3 linked regions of the Homo sapiens genome follow. The protein of the gene in region 3 interacts with the protein of the main gene of each other region in a pairwise test. Each region holds a gene or a part of one and is shown on either strand. Other genes may lie near its edges. The genes, in order: BTBD9, ZNF292 and DCLK3.

Evidence for each region.
Region 1: the proteins of DCLK3 (region 3) and BTBD9 interact in a two-hybrid assay, tested with the Homo sapiens proteins (one study listed by IntAct).
Region 2: the proteins of DCLK3 (region 3) and ZNF292 interact in a two-hybrid assay, tested with the Homo sapiens proteins (one study listed by IntAct).

What each region holds. Positions count from the first base shown.
Region 1 is NC_000006.12:38,633,255-38,637,009, reverse strand, and holds part of BTBD9 (BTB/POZ domain-containing protein 9), read left to right. Parts: intron 1-3,755.
Region 2 is NC_000006.12:87,158,437-87,162,191, reverse strand, and holds part of ZNF292 (zinc finger protein 292), read right to left. Parts: intron 1-3,755. UniProt on the Homo sapiens protein: May be involved in transcriptional regulation.
Region 3 is NC_000003.12:36,715,810-36,719,564, reverse strand, and holds part of DCLK3 (serine/threonine-protein kinase DCLK3), read left to right. Parts: intron 1-1,387; coding exon 1,388-1,555; intron 1,556-3,755.

The sequences.
Region 1 (3,755 bases), on a different chromosome or scaffold from region 3:
TAAGCAAAGTTGCTGAATATTAAAATTAAATAGCGCTTTTGGAAATATCTTGAGTTGTTTCTTGTGGGCAAGAGAGGGGAGAGGGCTGAACTCATCTCAAGAACCCATTCCTGAGATAATGAACCCATTCCTGCTATAATGGCATTCATCCATTCATGAGGGCCTAATCACTTCTTATTGCATGGGGGAAGTGATGAGGCAGGAAGCTGTTTTTGGAGCCAAATTATGAGGGGGTCTTCCACTTCATCCTAAAAAGTCTAGACTCCTCCCATCCATTGGCAGTGGAGAGCCATAGAAGGTAGAATAATCAGAAAGTTGACAGTTCGTGTGCAGATTGCATTAGAGTAGAGAGGCAGGGAGACTAGAGTGTAGGTGAGAAATGTTGGACAATGGGAATGGATAGATTTTGGAGACATTTTTAGATGTTAAAATCTCTACATTTATGACCAGCTAGAGGTAAGGGAGAGTGAGAAGTCAAAGATAATATGTCTAGTTTGAGCAACTGTTTGCTTATGATGACATTAAGTTAGAAATCACAGGAAGAGGAACAGGTTTGAAGTGGAGAGAAGAAATAATGGCAGTGTTAATTCTGAGGTTTCTGTGGGGAGTTTAAAAAGAGAGATCCACTAAGTAACTGGAAATGCTACTTCAGAGTTTATGAGATGGTTAGGGACAATTGTAATATAGATGTCCGCTGAGGCTGTGGGAGTAGCAACCTTCTAGGAGGCATGTTAGTATAGTAGTTAACTTAGTGGACTTTGGAGTTAGGAAGATGGCAGGTCAAATCTCTGTTATGCTGTTTATTGGTTGGCTGACCTTTGGCAAGTTATTTAACTTCTCTAAGCCTAGGCTTCTTATCTGAATTAAAGAATTGTGGAGATTATACATGTGCACAGTGATTAACACAAAGGTACTATGTGCACAGTGATTAACACAATGCCTGTCTTATAGATGCTTAATATAATAAATGGCAGCTGTTGCTGTTATTGTTAGTAGTAGTTATAGATGTAGAGATAGTAGGAGAGGCCCCAATGCCAGAAAAATGGAGAGTGAGAACTGGAAAAGATGGTGAATGGAACTTTTGGACGTTTAAATCAGTATTTAAACTTGGATCAGTTCTTGTCTTTGTTTTGTGCTGCTATTTCATATTTTATGTTTCATAATGGCAGCACAAAACAAACTAAGACAAGAACTGATCTAAGTTTAATTTATAAAGAACAGTCTGGTTAATTTATAAAGAACAGAAATTTATTTCCTGATAGTTCTGGAGGCTAGGAAGTCCCAGATCAATGTGCCAGTATCTGGTGAGGGCCTTCTTGCTGTGTCATAACATGGCAGAAGGCATCACATGGGTGAGAGAGAGAGGGAAGGGGGCTGAACTGATCATGTCAACCTATTCCCACTCTACTGGCATTAATTCATTCATGAGAAAAGAGTCTTCATGGCCTAATCACTAAAGATCCCACCACTCACTGCTGTTGCATTGGGGAATCATGTCTCCTCTAACACATGGAGGACACATGCAAACCATAGTAGTTCTAAAATTTGAAAATGCATTGGGTAGACCTGGAGGTGGCCAGGTGTGGTGGCTCATGCCTGTAACTCCAGCACTTTGGGAGGCTGAGGTGGGTGGATCACTTGAGGTCAGGAGTTTGAGACTAGCCTGGCCAACATGGTGAAACCCTATCTCTACTAAAAATATAAAAATTAGCTGGGTGGGGTGGTGCACACCTGTAATCCCAGCTACTCAGGAGGTTAAGGCAAGAGAATCGCTTGAACCCAGGAGGTGGACATTGCAGTGAGCCGAGATTAGGCCACTGCACTCCGGCCTAGGTGACAGAGCGAGACTCCATCTCAAAAAAGAAAAAAAAAAAGAAATAGCTGGAGGCTTTGGTAAAGCACAGATTTCTGGGTCCCACCCCCATAGTTTCTGATTAAGTAGGTGTGGACTGGGGCTTGAAAAATTGCATTTTTGAACAAGTTCCCAGGTGATGCTGATGGTGCTGTTAGAGGATAGATGAAAGAAAAGGAACCAGCACTAACAAAGTGGTTGAAGTGTATGGAGAACCAGGAGATAGTTTAGAGAAGAATAAGAATTTTAACAGCCTCCAGACTCTCTAGGTCTACCAGTCTGATTTCCAATTTCGTAGAGCTTATCTCATTCTTATTTTTGTTTTCTCCAGAATCTATTATAATGCCTGATACATAGCAATAACCTTTGAAGCTGCTTAATACTGTCCTGGTGCATGATGGCATGTACCTCACACACAGATTTCATTTATCCTCTTTTATCTCTGATGAGTCATGGGGAGGATATGATTTCTAATTTTACACACACACAAAATAACTACAGAAAATTTCTTTCATATATCTGGTGTGTAGCTATGTGCATTTGACTTTGTGTTAGATGCCCTCTCCCCCCCCTTTTTTTTTAAAAAAAAGGAACAATCCAGTTTGCAAAATAATTTTTAATAATATGTGCCAGGATTCCAGTCTGTGTCCTGTATTAGGCACATTGAGTCTTAAAAGGGAAGCAAATAATATATTCCCTGTTCCTGGGAAGTTTACAGATAAGATGGGTGAAATGAGCAAAACCCACAGGAAAGAAACAGGAAGAGGTATAATCACAGAAACATGGATGTAGAGAATCTGAATCTAAGGACATATTCTTTGCTTGCCAATATTCTTTGGGTTTTACATGTTTCATATACTGAAGACTTTTGGCATATAGCACACATGTTAGTCCTAGTGAGAGGAAGTTATAAGGGAGTTCCACTATATAAGGAAATAAAACAGTAGCTGTGCAAAATTATAAACACATTTGTAAAGGGAGTGAAATTGGAGTTAAATTGGAGCTTCATGACTGACAGCTTAGCTACTCACTATTCTGCCTAGGTGCTTGTTCTCTCTCATTTATCTCCCAGCTAACATTCATTAAGCATTTATAGTGTGCCAGAAATCGTGTGAAGTGCTGGGCATAGAGAAAACAATAATTGCCTTGTGCACCTAATTCTGGTTTTACTTGGGGAAAGGAATGTGCACACATGTATGCATATTGTCAGGGTGAAGGAGCCTGACTTTTATAATCTTAAGATTATATTGAAGGAAGAGACATTGAGGACTTGAAGTTAAATTCATTCAGCCTTATGTATTCAAGGGGCCATGACGAGTATAGGGATGGGGCCATGACGCGTATAGAGATGTATATTTTTTTTTTAGCAATCAAATTTGTAATTTGATAGAGGAGAAAGAACATATTTGGAGTAATAAAAAGAATACGATAAGTACTGTATAAATATTGATTACAGACTAGGTACTCTGGCTTCTTAAGCAGCTAAGTGTTCAGTTTTAACAGCAACTCATAAGCTATTGTAATGTTTCAGAAATTATAACATGTCATAAGTCCACATTAACCTCCTGGGCTGCCTTTGCATCTGAATATGAGACACAAAAATATTCTGGCAGTCTGTGTCCCTATTTTCTTGATTTGGGAAGTATATGCATAATGCATATAAGCAAAAGAGTAATTAAAAACAAGGTGCTATTTATCTAATGGCTACATTATGCAAGGCCCTTTCTATATACTGTTTCATCCTTGTAATGACAACCTTGTCAATTTGACATTATCTCCATTTTACTAATAAGGTAACTGAGTTCCAGAATGGGAACTGTTTGTCTGTAGCTTGTGGCCAGTGAGAAGTGGGACTGGGCTCCAGTACAGACCCAGGTGTGGACTCTGCAGCCTGTGTTCTTTT
Region 2 (3,755 bases), on a different chromosome or scaffold from region 3:
AAGACTAGCTCAAATAGTACCTCCTCAGGAAAGCCTTCCCTGATACCCCAGCCTGAAGTGCTTACTACCTACTTTGAACTCTTTAAGTTGCTATACATAAAATTAACTTACTCTCCTAAATATCCACTGATAATGAACTGATTAATTAGACCCAGCCATAGACTAGAATTACTATATACTATAATAGGGAAAGCCAAAAACTTACATGAGCAGCTATGGAATGAGCTAGAAGATGCTTTTGGGGGGAGGGAAAGCAAGATACAGTGTAGTTATCTTTATTTTCTTAAAAAGAGCAAACTAGTTCTGGAAACCATTAGGGGATTTGTCTTTGTGGAAATGAGACTGGAACTCTAGAATGGGAAAAAGATCAAGTTTTCATTGTATGCCCTTTCTCAGGGTGAATTTTAAAAAACCATTTCAATTAGTACATTTTCAATTTAAAACAAAACAAAACAAACAACAAAAAAGCAAAACCAGGCTGGGTGCAGTGGCTCACGCCTATAGTCCCAGCACTTTGGGAGACCAAGGTGGGAGGACTGCTTGAGCACAGGAGTTTGAGACCAACCTGGGCAATGTAGGGAGATCTTGTCTCCACAAAAAATTTTAAAGTTAGGCATGTTGATGTGCACCTGTGGTCCCAGCTACTCAGGCTGAGGCAAGAGGATCGCTTAAGCCCAGTTGGTCAAGGATGCAGTGAGCCGTGACTGTGTCACTGCACTCCCACCTGGGTGACAGAGTGGAGACCCTGTCTCAAAAAAATAAAAATAAAGCAAAACAATTTGTTAGTTAATACACTGCCTTTTGACATCTTTTCAGCTGTCATTTTGAAGTGATATTTAAATATTATCTTACTAATTTATATCCCACTAGTTGCCCGTATCTTTTATCTCCTATAACATCTAAACCTAGGTCCTTGCATATAAATGCTTTCTTAAAAGTACAGAATTTATTATATCAAAATGTCAAATCTTTTCTTTAATCAGGATAATTATGCTGAATTTGCTACCCTCTTTAACCTAGCAAAAGTTGTTTTACTAACTGTTTATGCAATTGCTTGTAATTTCTGCTAAGAAAGTAGAAAGTTTCTTGACCTCTCATGGTCAGTATAAATTATACTTAAATATTGTTGAATATCATTTACCTGGACCTGTTCCAAATAAAGTATATTTCTGGAGCTTAACTATCTCAATATGAAAAGAGTAGAAGGACTAAAAAAAAAAATCTTCTAGATATACTATTTTTCTTTCTGTTCAATGTTTCTGAAAAGGGTACTTAGAGGAATTACGCTTTCATTTGTTGGGACGGTCCTGATCACTTCAGAAAACTTAGCATTGAAGCTCATGGGCACTAAATGCCAGTACCACATCCCTAGTCATAGCAACATCCAAAAACCTGATCCCACATATTTCTAAGTGCCATCAAAGAGAGAACTGGAGGTAGGGAAAGTACTATGCCCAGTTGAGAAGCCCTGCTTATATGAACTAAGAAAATTATATATATATATATACACACACACATCATATATATGTATATATACACACACACACACCGTATACATGTATGTATACACACACACATCGTATATATGTATATATACACACAAACATATTTTTTTATTAGAGTCTCCTGTATCTTATATCCTCTGTAACATCTAAACCTAGGTCCTTGCATATATATACACACACACACACACACACACATATATATACAAACACATGTACGTATGTATACACATACACACACGACTGTAATTCAACCCTTCAAAACAACTGTCAGCCACCAGATCACTACTGATCAATGGTCAATAACAGTTACAATCAACCAGTCGGCCAGTCCAGTATATAGTGCTGTCAGCAAATATCATACTCCAACAAATCAACTATTACAATGGCCAATTTTTCCAACGAACTATTATTTTAAAATCTCTTTAGAACAACTCCTCTGTTGGAATGTTTCTTTTAAAACTCCCAAATAACCTCCCTCTTTACTGTACTCACCTCAGTGATAAAATATATAAATCATAGTTTACTACGATTATCTGTCTACCTTCCTCCAGAGACTATAAACTCTTTGAAGCCAGGGACCATGATCATCCTTGCCTAGCCTGTATACAGTAGATGTTCAATAGAAATGTTGAATGAGTGACTACTGGCCCAGTCTAATACAATTAACTAGTCTAAAAGGTTCCAATTATAACCAATTTTTGTATAATAAATACAGTAATAATCCTAAAACAAGTAAATGCAAGAAATTACTTCTGGTTATTCTATATACTTATTCTAAGTCAATTTTAAGAAAATGAGTTGGTTATATTGCCCATATTAAAGCTAACTTTGAAAAGATACAAGGAAATTTAAGAGCTGGGCATGGTGGTGTATGCCTGAGGTCTCAGCTACTTAGAAGGCTGAGACAGGGCCGGGCGTGGTGGCTCACGCCTGTAATCCCAGCACTTTGGGAGGCCAAGAGGGGCGGAACCAGCCTGACCAACAAGGAGAAACCCTGTCTCTAGTAAAAATACAAAATTAGCCGGGCATGGTGGCACATGCCTGTAATCCCAGCTACTCAGGAGGCTGAGGCAGGAGAATTGCTTGAACCCAAGAGGCGGAGGTTGTGGTGAGCCCAGATTGCGCCATTGCACACCAGCCTGGGTGACAGAGTTAAACTACATCTTTTTTAAAAAAAAAAAAAAAAAAAAAGAAAGAAAAGAAAGCTGAGACAGGAGGATCACTTGAGCCTAAGAGTTTGAGGTTGTAGTGTGCTATGATCATACCTGGGCAATGTAGCAAGACCCCATCTCTCAAAAATAAAATAAAATATATAAAAAAATTTAAAATTTATGACGGGCGCTCTACTATGCCCATCCTCTACTTACTCTTCCCTCCTCCCACTTAAGCTTTAAGCAAATTCTCATTTAAATAAGCAAAGGGGGGGCAGGTGGCTTATTTCCAGAATGAGCAAAACAACACTGTTAATAAGAAAAACATTTAATGCCTTTCGTTTCTATTCTGCTACTCAGAATTCAAAAAATCTATTAATCTTCTACCTCACTCAAAAATAAAAATCTATAAACTACGGATCATAAGCAACTCCTGTTTCTGTGGGTTTCACCACATTCTCCAGAAACTGAACTTTTGCTCATAAAAATTACATAGAATGTAAACTAATTCATTTTTTAAAGTAAATGCAAAACTAAGGGTTACACAAGCACTGAGCATCAACACTGACAGAATATTAATTCTGAAGCCCATTAACTTTGACAAACGTTTATTCATCTTTGCCTTCTTGAAGCGTGTGACTATCCCAGTTTTACAGGAAAAGCTTAAACAGAAAAAGTTAAATAATAATCTCAAGGTTAGAAACTAAGACATAATTTCTAGCTCCTAGTATCCCTGGTACTATATTTAGATTGCGCCAATAAATTCTTTAATTGTTAACCATTGCTTCACTCAACTTCGTATCAAAATGCTAGGTGATAATTGCTAAGATACAATTTTATTTTTATTTTTTATTTTTTTGAGACAGGATCTTTCTCTGTCACCCGGGCTGGAGTGTGCACAGTGCACCATCTCTGCTCACTGCAACCTCTGCCTCCCGGGTTCAAATGATCCTCCCACCTCAGCCTCGTAAGTAGCTGGGACTACAGGCACTCGCCACAGCGCCTGGCTAATTTTTTTGATTTGTTTTGTTTTTTGTATTTTTTGTAGAGAAGGGGCCACGCCATGCTGCTCAGGCTCAAGCGATCCGCCCAACTCGGC
Region 3 (3,755 bases):
AGAGAAAAGGCTGAGCAGCCCAGAGAGGATCTGAAAAGTGCATTGTCACAGAGGCCAAGGGACATTTCTAGGATTGATGAGGTCCAGGAAAATCAATCCCTCTCAACAGTGAGATGGTTGAGAACTGAGAAAAGACCAAAAGAGGTCATTAGTGACTTATTCTTTTAATATTTTCCTGCAGATTTGTATTTTGACAAACTTACTCTGGGGCTTAATTATGAATATCTAACTTCTAAATTACAGTGGTCAAGTGTTTTCTTTTTCTAACTGTAAAAAGTTAGTTAGAAAGTGTTTGAAAATGTCTATATTGCTGTGATAAGTTTTGGGAGGACAATGTGTAATATGTATCAAAAACCTTTACTGTATATTGCTTTGTCTATTTCATTGCTGGAAGGTTATTTTAGGAATATAATCAGACATGTGCACAAATATTTAATAAATGCTCATCAGAAAATTCCTTACAGCTGTAAAAAAATTAGTAAAAACTTAAATTACAACATAGGGATTTATTATGTAAAGGGGATACTAATAGTTATTAGAAATCATTTTTGTAAAAAATATTTTTGGTATTTTTCATAGGAAATTCTTATGTTGGAAATGTCATTGTATAATATTCAGTAAATAAAATAGAGTATAGGTGCAATGTGATCCTATTTTTATTTAGAAAAGTAAATAAACATTTTATTTAGAAAAGTATACATGTCTCTATATAGGTGTGTGCGCGTGTGTGTGTGTGTTGTATACCAGTGTGTGCACACATGGGGATACAGCTAGTAAACATCAGTCTTTTAAAAATCATTTAAAAAGCCAGTAAATGATATTTTTTAAGTGAGAGAGAAGACAATGGATATATAGGAAGCAGAGATTGCTAGTGTAGACTGGGGCTTCTCTAACTACCTCCAGTGAAGGGTCAAGTTTTAAAGTTTCCAGTACAGTGTGGACTCACGGTCCTGCTGCATGTGACTAGAACACATCTCATGCCACATGTGACTCACTACATGTGTTTGACAACGCCTGAACTGATGTATGTGCTGTTCAACAAGATGTGCCCTTCAATCATGCAACTGAGCGTCACAGTCTTGTTAAATTGCTATAAGAGTTTCCAAACACTTGCTTTCAATTTCTCTGCTCATTCTATTACAGACCAGTAATAAGGCATTGCAAAGTGGCAGTGATCCATGGACCACACTTTGAGTAATGATGGTGTAGAGTCCTTATGTATAGGAGTTAGCAGGGAGCTGTGTTTGGAAGTGGCTCTTGGTTGCTGAGAGCTGGGATCCTCTATGACTTAGATCTATTTAGAACCACAATACTCCATCATTTATTTCATCACCTTTGACCCTGCCTGGTCTCAGGTTTGCTTGTGTCTCTGCCTCTGTCTGCGCAGGTTATGGACTGGAGGTGGACATGTGGGCTGCTGGCGTGATCCTCTATATCCTGCTGTGTGGCTTTCCCCCATTCCGCAGCCCTGAGAGGGACCAGGACGAGCTCTTTAACATCATCCAGCTGGGCCACTTTGAGTTCCTCCCCCCTTACTGGGACAATATCTCTGATGGTGAGATTTGGGGCTTCCTCACACAGCAGAGGAGCGGATGGGTTTTTCAGGTCAGATGTGTAGAGGACCCACCACTGTGCCTGGTGCAGAGTTGGACTGTCAACATGTCATGTCTCAGCCTTTACTTCCTCAGTAGCTTCATGTAGGTTTGTGTAGCACTCTGAAAACATGGCTTGCTTTCAGATTTAGTGAAAAAGCCCAACCACCAGTTACAGTCACCAAGTACTTTTCCTTAAGGCAATTCAAGAACCTCAGAACAGAAAAATATCAGAAACATTGTAACTCCCCTTTGGAAAGAGAAAGGCCATCTTATATGCAGAAGTGTTTGTGAATGGAACAGACTGAAAATGCTTATTTTACACATGCATAATCAAGGGTCCTATAGCAGCACACTTGAAGCACAGGGGCTCTGCAATGAAGATCTCAGTTATTTTTTAGTGACTTGGAGCATGCATGGTCCTCCCTGCTTTTGGCCCTCTGTTCCATTTGATTCCAAATGAAATCCTTCCCCTTGTCTCTACTGATTTGTCTGTACTACTCACTGTCCTTGTAAAACTGGGAACTAGATAATTGGGGATTTTGAGTCTTTAGCTTAAAAAGTAGAATAGGAGGCTGGGTGTGGTGGCTCATACCTATAATCCTAGCACTTTGGGAGGCCCAGGTGGGAGGATTGCTTGAGACCAGGAGTTTGAGACCAGCCTGGGCAACTGGCGATACCCCTTCTCTACAAAAAATGAAACAAATTAGCCAGGGGTGGTCCCAGTTGCTCTGGAGGCTGAGGCAGGAGGACCACTTAAGCCCAGGAGTTTGAGGCTGCAGTGAGCTATGATTGTGCCACCACACTCCAGCCTGGGTGACAGAGACCCTGGTTCAAAATAAAAATAAAAATAAAGTAGAATAGGAGTGATAACATTTTGTTTTTCAATTTTCCCTAAACATGCTATTGAATTTTAGTTATTGAACTGCCTCCATCCCTAGCCTCTATTTCCTCACTGGGATTGGAGGATGAGGGAAGGGAAAATCTTCATTTTCCCCCCTTTAAATAAGGTAGGGAGAGGGTGGCTTGTCACAGTAGATGAGGATCTTGAGCTGACAAGGCAGTGGCAACTGGGAATTGAGGGACTAAAAATCATTTTAGAAAGTTCTATGCAGCACTCCTTAGATTTGGGCATGGGTGGCCCCTGTCCTGGGCCCTGCTGTAGTCACACCCTTCTCTACAGAGTGAGGAGAGTATGGGGCCTAGGGGATGTGCCCCCAGAGCCCAGGTCCCCTCTTCTAGATCACTTCCTTAGGGCCCCTGAATTCCCTGTCCAAATGGCCCAAGCCCACATCCAAGGTTTGTGAGACCTCTTTCCAGCCTCTTCCCACTATGCCATAAAGTGGCCAAGGAGTGGCCATCTGGAGGGGTTAGACAGAGCTTGGACATGTTGCCTGGGGTGTCTGGTTGTCCACACTTGTACACAAGAGTCTGAGGATTCTCAACTTAAATCTGGCCTTCCAGCCTCTGAGTCATTTGAGGACCCTGAGGGAGTGATGTGGCAGTGGTGGGGCTGGGGCTTTTTGGGGCAGAATTTTCCCAGCTTGAATTGGGTGGTGTAGGAGGAATCTGGGCCTTCTGTGCTCAGGAGGTGGCTGGACATCGGGGGAGGGGAGCGGTGATTGGTGGGTAAGCAGCTGGTCTTGAGTAAGAGACAGCCTTCAATAAAGGCAAAAAATAACAACAACAAAAAGTGGATGTTTTCTTCTTGTGCATATCTTGAGTGATTGGAAGAGCAGTCTCAATGAGCCAGGCTGGGAGAGCCAGCAAGCCAGGGGGAAATCTCTTCTGCTTTCTGCCTGCTGCTGGGCCCACCAGTTGGGCCCTCATTTCTCTAAAATCAGTCATGGTCTTGGGCAGAAAATAAAATTATTTTTGAATTTGCACTATTTACTTTTTAGATTTCTTTACACGGTTTTCAGTTTTGTCAATGTGAAGGCATATGTATTGACTTGGAAAGATTGAACATATTTTATTTAACAATGTGTTAGTTTCGATTTGAAACCTTAAAGTATGTAGATGTATAGCATGTGTTCTCCATTTGTTCCTTTGCCCTGAGTGCCAGGGATGTTAAGAGTGGGTCTGGCCCTGCGATTCCAGAGAAATGAAGGAACGTCCTCTCGAGCTGTGCTGTCCAACATGGTAACCCCCCTCCCTGCTGCC